Linked DNA regions of Homo sapiens. The protein of the gene in region 1 purifies or fractionates together with the protein of each later gene. This does not show direct contact. Each region holds a gene or a part of one and is shown on either strand. Other genes may lie near its edges. The genes, in order: PGGT1B and RIOX2.

The links.
Region 2: the proteins of PGGT1B (region 1) and RIOX2 purify together in Homo sapiens (affinity purification with mass spectrometry, with the first as the bait; one large-scale study listed by BioGRID). This does not show direct contact.

The regions. Positions count from the first base shown.
Region 1 is NC_000005.10:115,210,692-115,214,511, reverse strand, and holds part of PGGT1B (geranylgeranyl transferase type-1 subunit beta), read left to right. Parts: intron 1-1,928; coding exon 1,929-2,110; 3' UTR 2,111-2,204; coding exon of another isoform or gene 2,205-2,234; 3' UTR 2,235-3,820. UniProt on the Homo sapiens protein: Catalyzes the transfer of a geranyl-geranyl moiety from geranyl-geranyl pyrophosphate to a cysteine at the fourth position from the C-terminus of proteins having the C-terminal sequence Cys-aliphatic-aliphatic-X.
Region 2 is NC_000003.12:97,951,740-97,955,559, forward strand, and holds part of RIOX2 (ribosomal oxygenase 2), read right to left. Parts: intron 2,757-3,820; coding exon 2,653-2,756; intron 514-2,652; coding exon of another isoform or gene 456-513; exon of another isoform or gene 413-455; intron 403-412; exon of another isoform or gene 1-402. UniProt on the Homo sapiens protein: Oxygenase that can act as both a histone lysine demethylase and a ribosomal histidine hydroxylase. Is involved in the demethylation of trimethylated 'Lys-9' on histone H3 (H3K9me3), leading to an increase in ribosomal RNA expression.

The DNA.
Region 1 (3,820 bases):
TAAGCTTATTCTTCATTCTAGTGAATTTAGTGGCAAATTTGATACAAAGGGATTTTATATACATTTATGAAAGAAACTTCAAAAGAATAACCTTTTATTGTGGAGTAAATATATATTTCAACATCTAAAGTGCTTTATTATGGAGTAAACATATAGTTCCACATCTAAAGTGCTTGTACGTTGCCACTTACAGATAAGGAGTTTTTTTAAAAACACAATTTGAGGCTTCAAACAATTGAGTTCTGATCTCATTGGCTGTTACAAAAATCTTTTTGAGAAACAAATAAGTTTTATTTGTTACTTTACCCAGAGAGATTTTAGTTTTACACAGTTCTATTTTATGTTATTATAGATATATATTTTCTGTTGTACTTTTTCCTAGAAAAGTTTCCTAGTTTCTAGAAAACAAAGCTTAATGTTGCTTTGTACCCTTTGTAGTTTTAGAATAACTATATGGATGTAATATGACAGGTGAAATCAAGTTTATTTTTTATAGTCTGAAAGTCAAAGGAAAGTGAGCCAGAAGAAACCTAAGTATTTTCTGAAAAGGCCTAAAAGGTGATCAACATGGGCCTCCATTAGTTAAATAACATTTTCACAATGGCATTGAGTAAGCACAGCTATTTGTCATTTCTGTTTTGAAAAATAAGTGATACTGTTGTAAGTAAAGCTTTTTCTTTAACTCTTTTGACAAAGTTTGATGTGGTAAGATGTGTTGAACTTTTTGTTGTTGTTGTTTTGAGACAGGGTTTCATTATTTTGCCCAGGCTAGAGTGCAGTGATATAATCATGCCTCACTGCAGCCTCAACCTCCCTAGGCTCAGGTGAGCCTCCCACCTCAGCCTCCCGAGTAGCCGGAACTACAGGCGCACGCCACCATACCTGGTAATTTTTGTATTTTTTGTAGAGATGGAGCTTCACCGTATTGCCCAGGCTGGTATCGAACTCCTGTGGCTCAAGGAATATGCCCTTCTCGGCCTCCCAAAGTGCTGGGATTACAGGTGTGAGCCACCACACCCAGCCTGTTTTGAACTTTAATAGCTCTTAAGGCCATAAATGTCGGCCAATTCAAAAATAGAAAAAAATTTTGACTGGTACAAAACTGTCTTTTTAATGTTCCTATAACTGCAAAGCTCTGAGCTCTTCAGAAGTCTACATAAGACTCCTAGGCAGGAATGGCCATGTGATTTCATTGGCCACTTTAATAGAAGAGGATCGCTGCCCCCTGAAAGATGGGAAACTAGTGAGCCAGTGCAGAATTGTCATGGTATGAGCACTCATATTATTTCAACCAAATAGAATGTGAGTTTGTTTTTATTGTCAGATCAGATATTTTTACAATGACTGACATTACCCTAAATAGGAGGATTAAATATGGCACAGCATTCCAGAATGGATTATTTTTGCATAAGCTCCTTTTATTTAACACAATGTTAGGATAGTACTGCATATGGTTTAGGAACTTTCAGAGGTAAAACGTGGAGCGAGGGATATTGCAACTTAGATTCAGAGTTTTGTTTTCGTTTTAAAGAAAAAAAAACTTAATGATATAGCATTGAAGCTACTCGTTTTCATGTTCTCTAGTAAGCAAGAGGGGAAACTCCCCAAAGTGAGAAGTCTTACATATGACTGCTGCTACTCCTGTCTTTTAATCACAGAGGTTATGGACAGTATCAGCTCTTCAGCTGGAAACTGTTTTCCTTTGTTAATGATATTTTCATGAATAAAATATTTTATTTTGATCATCTGAGTTTTTTTTTTAATTGGTGTTTGAGGCTTTGAGAAAGCAAATATTTTTAAAACTATATTAGCATTTCTCTAAACTTACTTTTAATGGAGTGATGGGCTGGTAAATATGTGGCTAAAATATTCTGTAGAATGTACAAGTAAGAATGCCTATTATGATGTTTTAAATGCCTTCTTTTCAGATGCTTTGCATGCATACTTTGGGATCTGTGGCCTGTCACTAATGGAGGAAAGTGGAATTTGTAAAGTTCATCCTGCTCTGAATGTAAGCACACGGACTTCTGAACGCCTTCTAGATCTCCATCAAAGCTGGAAAACCAAGGACTCTAAACAATGCTCAGAGAATGTACATATCTCCACATGACTGATTTTAGATTGGGAGGGTGGGGGGATTTGTAGCATAACTGTAGCTCAAGTTTAAAAGCCATGTATAACCAAGTGTGCTCTTTTTTTAAAAGGTAGAGTCTTACAATCAAATCTCCTGCTGATTTCACTTTGGGATATGGTCTTGAGCCAGTAATCTTTATACTGGGTTTCAAGAAAATCTTTGTTGAAGTTTGAACCACAACTTTGTCGTGGTTCTTAAATGTTTATACTGTATTTCTAAGAAGTTGTTTGAGGCAAATTAACTGTATGTGTGTAGGTTATCTTTTTAAAAACTCTTCAGTGCAAATTGTATCTTATTATAAAATGGACACAAATTTTCAAGTTTACACTTCATATAGCATTGATAATCTTCAGGTGAACACTTAGTGATCATTTAAAAAGCTCACTGCTGATCGTAGAAAATTTGCTTTAATTAATTAAGTATCTGGGATTATTCTTTGAAAACAGATGACCATAATTTTTTTTAAAGAAGAGTGACTTATTTTGTCTTATTCTTAAGTAAAGTGTGCCAATTAAACCTGTGTGGCCTATATAAATGAAGTTAATAACTTCATAGTAAGAATAAATAGGTTTAACTAATGTGATAGTTTTCTAAAAGGAGATTGTTTGAAGACAACTATTATGTAACTGAGGGAAAAGCAACTTAACTGTATGTGATTGTGAATGAGAAAGTTTTGTGCTATGTGGGTCATTTATCTAGACATTGCTGTGGTGAATACCAGTTATGTTTGATTTTATTCTCAAATCATTAGTTGCCTTTTTTTTTTTTTTTTTTTTTTTGCTTTCTAGGAAGAAAACAATCTTTTTTATCTAGAAGGAAAGATACTTTGTGTTTTCATTTTTAGCCATTTGAAGTTTTTAATTTATTGCCCCCAGTGTGTTAGCTGCTCTAATTTCAAACTAATACTTTTCTAATTTTTTTCAAATTAAATAAGTAAAAAATACAAAAACAGAACCATTCAAACAGATTCAGTGGTGTAACTCAATACATGGTCATTTTTATTCTCATATTTTCAGGTAAGTGAAAGGGAAATGCGACCATTTAGAGGGTAAGAAATAGGGTTTTGTTTTTGTTCATTGTTTTGTTTTAAGTCTATGAACTAGCTAATTATAAAGGAGGTAGTATAAAAACTCTTCATTAGTAATTAATTTATCAATAACTCATATCCGTTACTTGCTCAGTGACATTCAGAACTATTGCGTCTAGTACTGAAATGGGGAAAGAAATCTCTTCACTAAAGGAGTTGGCTTTAAGTTAGTCTTGGTGATAATAAATGTTGAAATACAAGTATCAGTATAAAAACTGGATTACTGGTATCACTGTTTAGGCATTGTAATACTTTAAATGTTATCTTTTTTTCTAAATCAGAGGGAAAAAAATGTTGTGAAATAACAGTCCTTCCCAAGGGAAACACTGTGTACTTGGAGAAATGATTGATTTATTATTGGCATGCTTAGTTTTAAACCTGAGTTTGCCAACTGTATGTTTTTTAATTAGAAATAAAATAAATCTTCTGATGGTGGGGGAAAAAGTAAGCTTAATAACAGATGTTATCCGTCTATGGGTTATTCCAGTTGCTACTATTTAAATCCTGGCAGATTAAGACATCCATATCTCAAACTAAGTCATCTCTTAGACATTGGAAGTTAAAGTAGCATATATATAATGGCTTTAGGACTATATAAA
Region 2 (3,820 bases), on another chromosome or scaffold:
CCAGAAAAGTTGCAAAGGAGGACAAAAGCCACATGAGAGACACTTTTCCCAAGACATCTACTACCTGGCGGCCTCACTGCTTTGTGACTTAATGTTATATCCAACCCTGCATCTTTAATTGAGTCTCAACCCGGAGGGCACATGCAGATCTCTCAGCACCATACAATATGTGCTTCCTTTGCAGGTTTATGTAGGTGGAAGTCATACAGCAACAGCTCATGGAGGAATTTAGTAGAAGTTAAATAGTGCTCCTCTAAGAGTCAGAATAGATATTGGGACTTCCCACAATTTAGGAATATCTCTTGAAGGGTCCACTTTGGTAAAACAACCAAATCAACAACATACAGCAGACCCCCAAACACTCCAACAATGCTACCTTGACAGGTGTTAGGAAGAGGCCCCAAATATTCACCTTTACATGGTACCTGAAGGAGCATTAGGCTCAAAACACAGGATCATTTCTGGGGAGCAATGGCCCTCAAGTCACATCTTCTCATTCTAGCTCCAGCATCACTGTCCAAGACACAGGTCAAAATCCAGCCTGGACACATTGATCATGGTACCCACCCACAATCCTAAGCAGGCAACTTCTGTAACTTAGGAAGCTCTTCCCAGCCCCAGCTGAAAAGAGAAGAAATGAATAGGACCCAGGGGCAGCCGGCCAGTTCCTCACTCTTGGGATTGGGAAACAGAGAGTGAGTCAGGTCCTTAGCAGAAGCAAAAGCTAACAGGGTCAATGAGATGGAGGTCAGAGTAGCAACTGGTGATGGCCTAATGTTATGAGTAAACAGAAGCTGAAGAAGGAACAGAAGGGAGAAAACACCAGTCACTAGAAAACCAGTTGGTAGCAGCAAGAGAAATGGAAAAGAGAATTACAGAAAGGGAGTACCTGAGAAACATTAACGATGGGACACCCACAGATGCACGGATATTCAAAGGGCCAAACTATGTGGTCCAGAACTGCTCTGAATCCAGAATGGACTTCTAATTCCAGCCTCTCTGTAGCCTGGAGTTTCTAGGACTCACTCCCTCAAGTGACCCTGCACTTCTTGAGCTGGCTTTGGTGACTTTCTGTCCCTTAAAATGCAAGGAACCTACCTAGCCAAAGTGATGAGGGCATTTTTCAAAATGGAAGCCTAATACAAACTTGGGCCTTCTACTTGTGGGAAAGATAGCACTAAACTAGGGCCAGGCCTCAGCTAATTCCTCCAGTAAGTCTTTTAAATGTAGAGGTGAAATTCACACTGAAAAGTCTGATGAGGAAGCAGAGGTATGCTTACTAACTTGTTTTGCAAGTTCTGGCCCTGAAGGTAGGAGGTGACTTGCCGTCCCTTGGACCTAGAATGTCCTCTCCTACTCTGATCTGCTGACCCACCCCTACTTACTCATCCTTTAAGACTCACTCAGCATTGGTGTCATTTCTGAAGGCTTCTCTAATGCCCCTACTTAGCTAAATGCATTCCTCTATGCTCCAAGAGTCTCCTCTGCAAACCTACAATAGAATTTATCACACCATCTCTTCTCCTACAACCAATTCCAAAGTATAAGCTCTCTCAAAACCCCTTCGATAAAATCCTTGAATTCCCAGCAACAAACACAATGTCTAGTACATATTTGTTTAACACATTAACTCATGACTAGTATTTTTTTTTTTTTCCTGAGACAGGGTCTCGCTCTGTCGCCCAGGCTGGAGTGCAGTGGCGTGATTTGGATCACTGCAACCTCCACCTCCTGTGTTCAAGTGATTCTCCTGCCTCAACCTCCAGAGTAGCTGGGATTACAGGTGCACACCACCACACCTGGCTAATATTTGTATTTTTTTTAGTAGAGATGGGGTTTCACCATGTTGGCCAGGCTGGTCTCAAACTTCTGACCTCAAGCGATCCACCCGCCTCAGCCTCCCAAAGTGCTGGGATTACAGGAGTGAGCCACCACGCCTGGCCATGATTAGTATTTTTAAATATGATTTGGACCAGCAAGGTTGCTGCTTTTTGGATATAACTCACACAGCACTGCCACCCAGTGAGGAGGTACTAGCTGAAATGAACATGATTTTAATTGGAACTGCTGTCAGCACATGCACTTTAGTTCCTGCTGTTCCAGACTGCCTGTCCTACTTTAACTTCATGGACTGTAAAAAGAGAAACCCTCAAAGAGACCAAGAGATTTCAATGGGTACAGAGTTTCTGTTGGAATAAACATGTTTTAGAAACGAATAGTGGTGATGGCTGCACAAGAGTGTGAATGTAATTAATGTCAAACTATGCTTTAAAATGGTTTAAAATGGTATATTTTATGTTCTATATATTTTATCATATTAAAAAAAAAGAGAGAGAGTATGAGCCCAGCCTGGCATCACTAACACACTGATGTACCCACAGCTAGTCTCTTTCTTTCCAAACTATGTGACTCTCTATTTGGGCAATGCCCCACATCCTACAGAGTCAGGTTCATGATGTCCCCAGAAGCAAGTCCAGAGGGACCAGTCACATACATGGGACATCAAAGGAATGTGGAAGTCAGTAAAGGACATAAACCCTGGGGTTTGCATAGGAGGTAGGGGCCAACTCCCTCATATCCCTCCTGAATGTGGCTGCTGCAGGCCAGGACTCAGAGCTGTCCTAGCATGTGCAGCTGGGAGGCAGTGTTTACTTGTTCTGGTAGGTGCTGATGGTCACGTGAGTAGAGTGGGCCAGCCCCGCAGGAGTGTCCGCTTGATGAATGGTTCCTCTGGGAAAGTACAACAAATCACCCGGCTAAAGGAAGGAATAGGAAAGGGTAGAGAAGTTAATAAGTATTCCTTCTCAGTCCTCTTCATTTCAGGGAGATAAATATGGGCTTTGAGTCTCAGTTCTCCATTCTAGAAACCACAACCTCAAGGCACAGTCTATATGCTGGGCTCATGTCGTGTGCAGCTAGTCTAGCTTCTCTGTGTCCGTGAGCCTGTCACTGTTAACCATGATCCACGAGAGGCTCTCGGTGCCTGAAGTCACTATCTTTTCATTCTCAAGCTGAGACTAGACTCACCTGAGACTACCCTGCCCTGATGCAGGGATCAAGGAAGGTAACATCCTGTGCCTGGGACGCCTGCTTCCTCCCTCTTGCATGCTTCAGTGGTTAAGAGTAGGAGCTTGAATTTAGAGTCACACAGACACAGCCACTTACTGGCTGATGATCTGGCAATTTACCTGCCCAAAGCCTCAGTTTCTTTATCTGTAAAATGAAGTTTAATAGCCCCAAACCTTACAGGATTATTTTGAGGATTAGAGATGCTGCTTCCAAGCTCTTAGGGCAATGATGGGCATGTGATTGGATTATATGATTTTATCCGCCAGTCCCCCACTTCCTGATAATTTTTGAGTACTTCTAGGCGCAGGGTCTGTATCTTACCATCTTGTCTTTCCCAGAGCCTACCCTAGCAAAGCACCTAGCACTCAACACAGGCTCAATGAATGTTGGGATGAATTGAAAAACTATACAATCCCTATTTCAACTGAAAAATAAGATGTAATCAAAAATTCATCATTTTCTTGGGCAGCTGAGCCTCCTCTACCCTATTCCAAGTGGGTGGACCAAAACATTCTCCCCAAATTACTCCTGCCCTGAGCTGCCTCCTTCCCAATCCCACTCAGGCCAAAATATTCCATGTAGCAGCTACCTATGGAGAAAAGAGGGAATCTTGAGGGCAGCTCATCTTCTCTCTGCAACTACAAGAGGTAGTCTAGTGCAATGGTTAAGACCATGAGCCCTGGAGAAAGAGCTCAAGAAATGCCAGCTTAAAAAAAAAAATTAAGATTCTCCTCAAAGCAAGAGGAATATA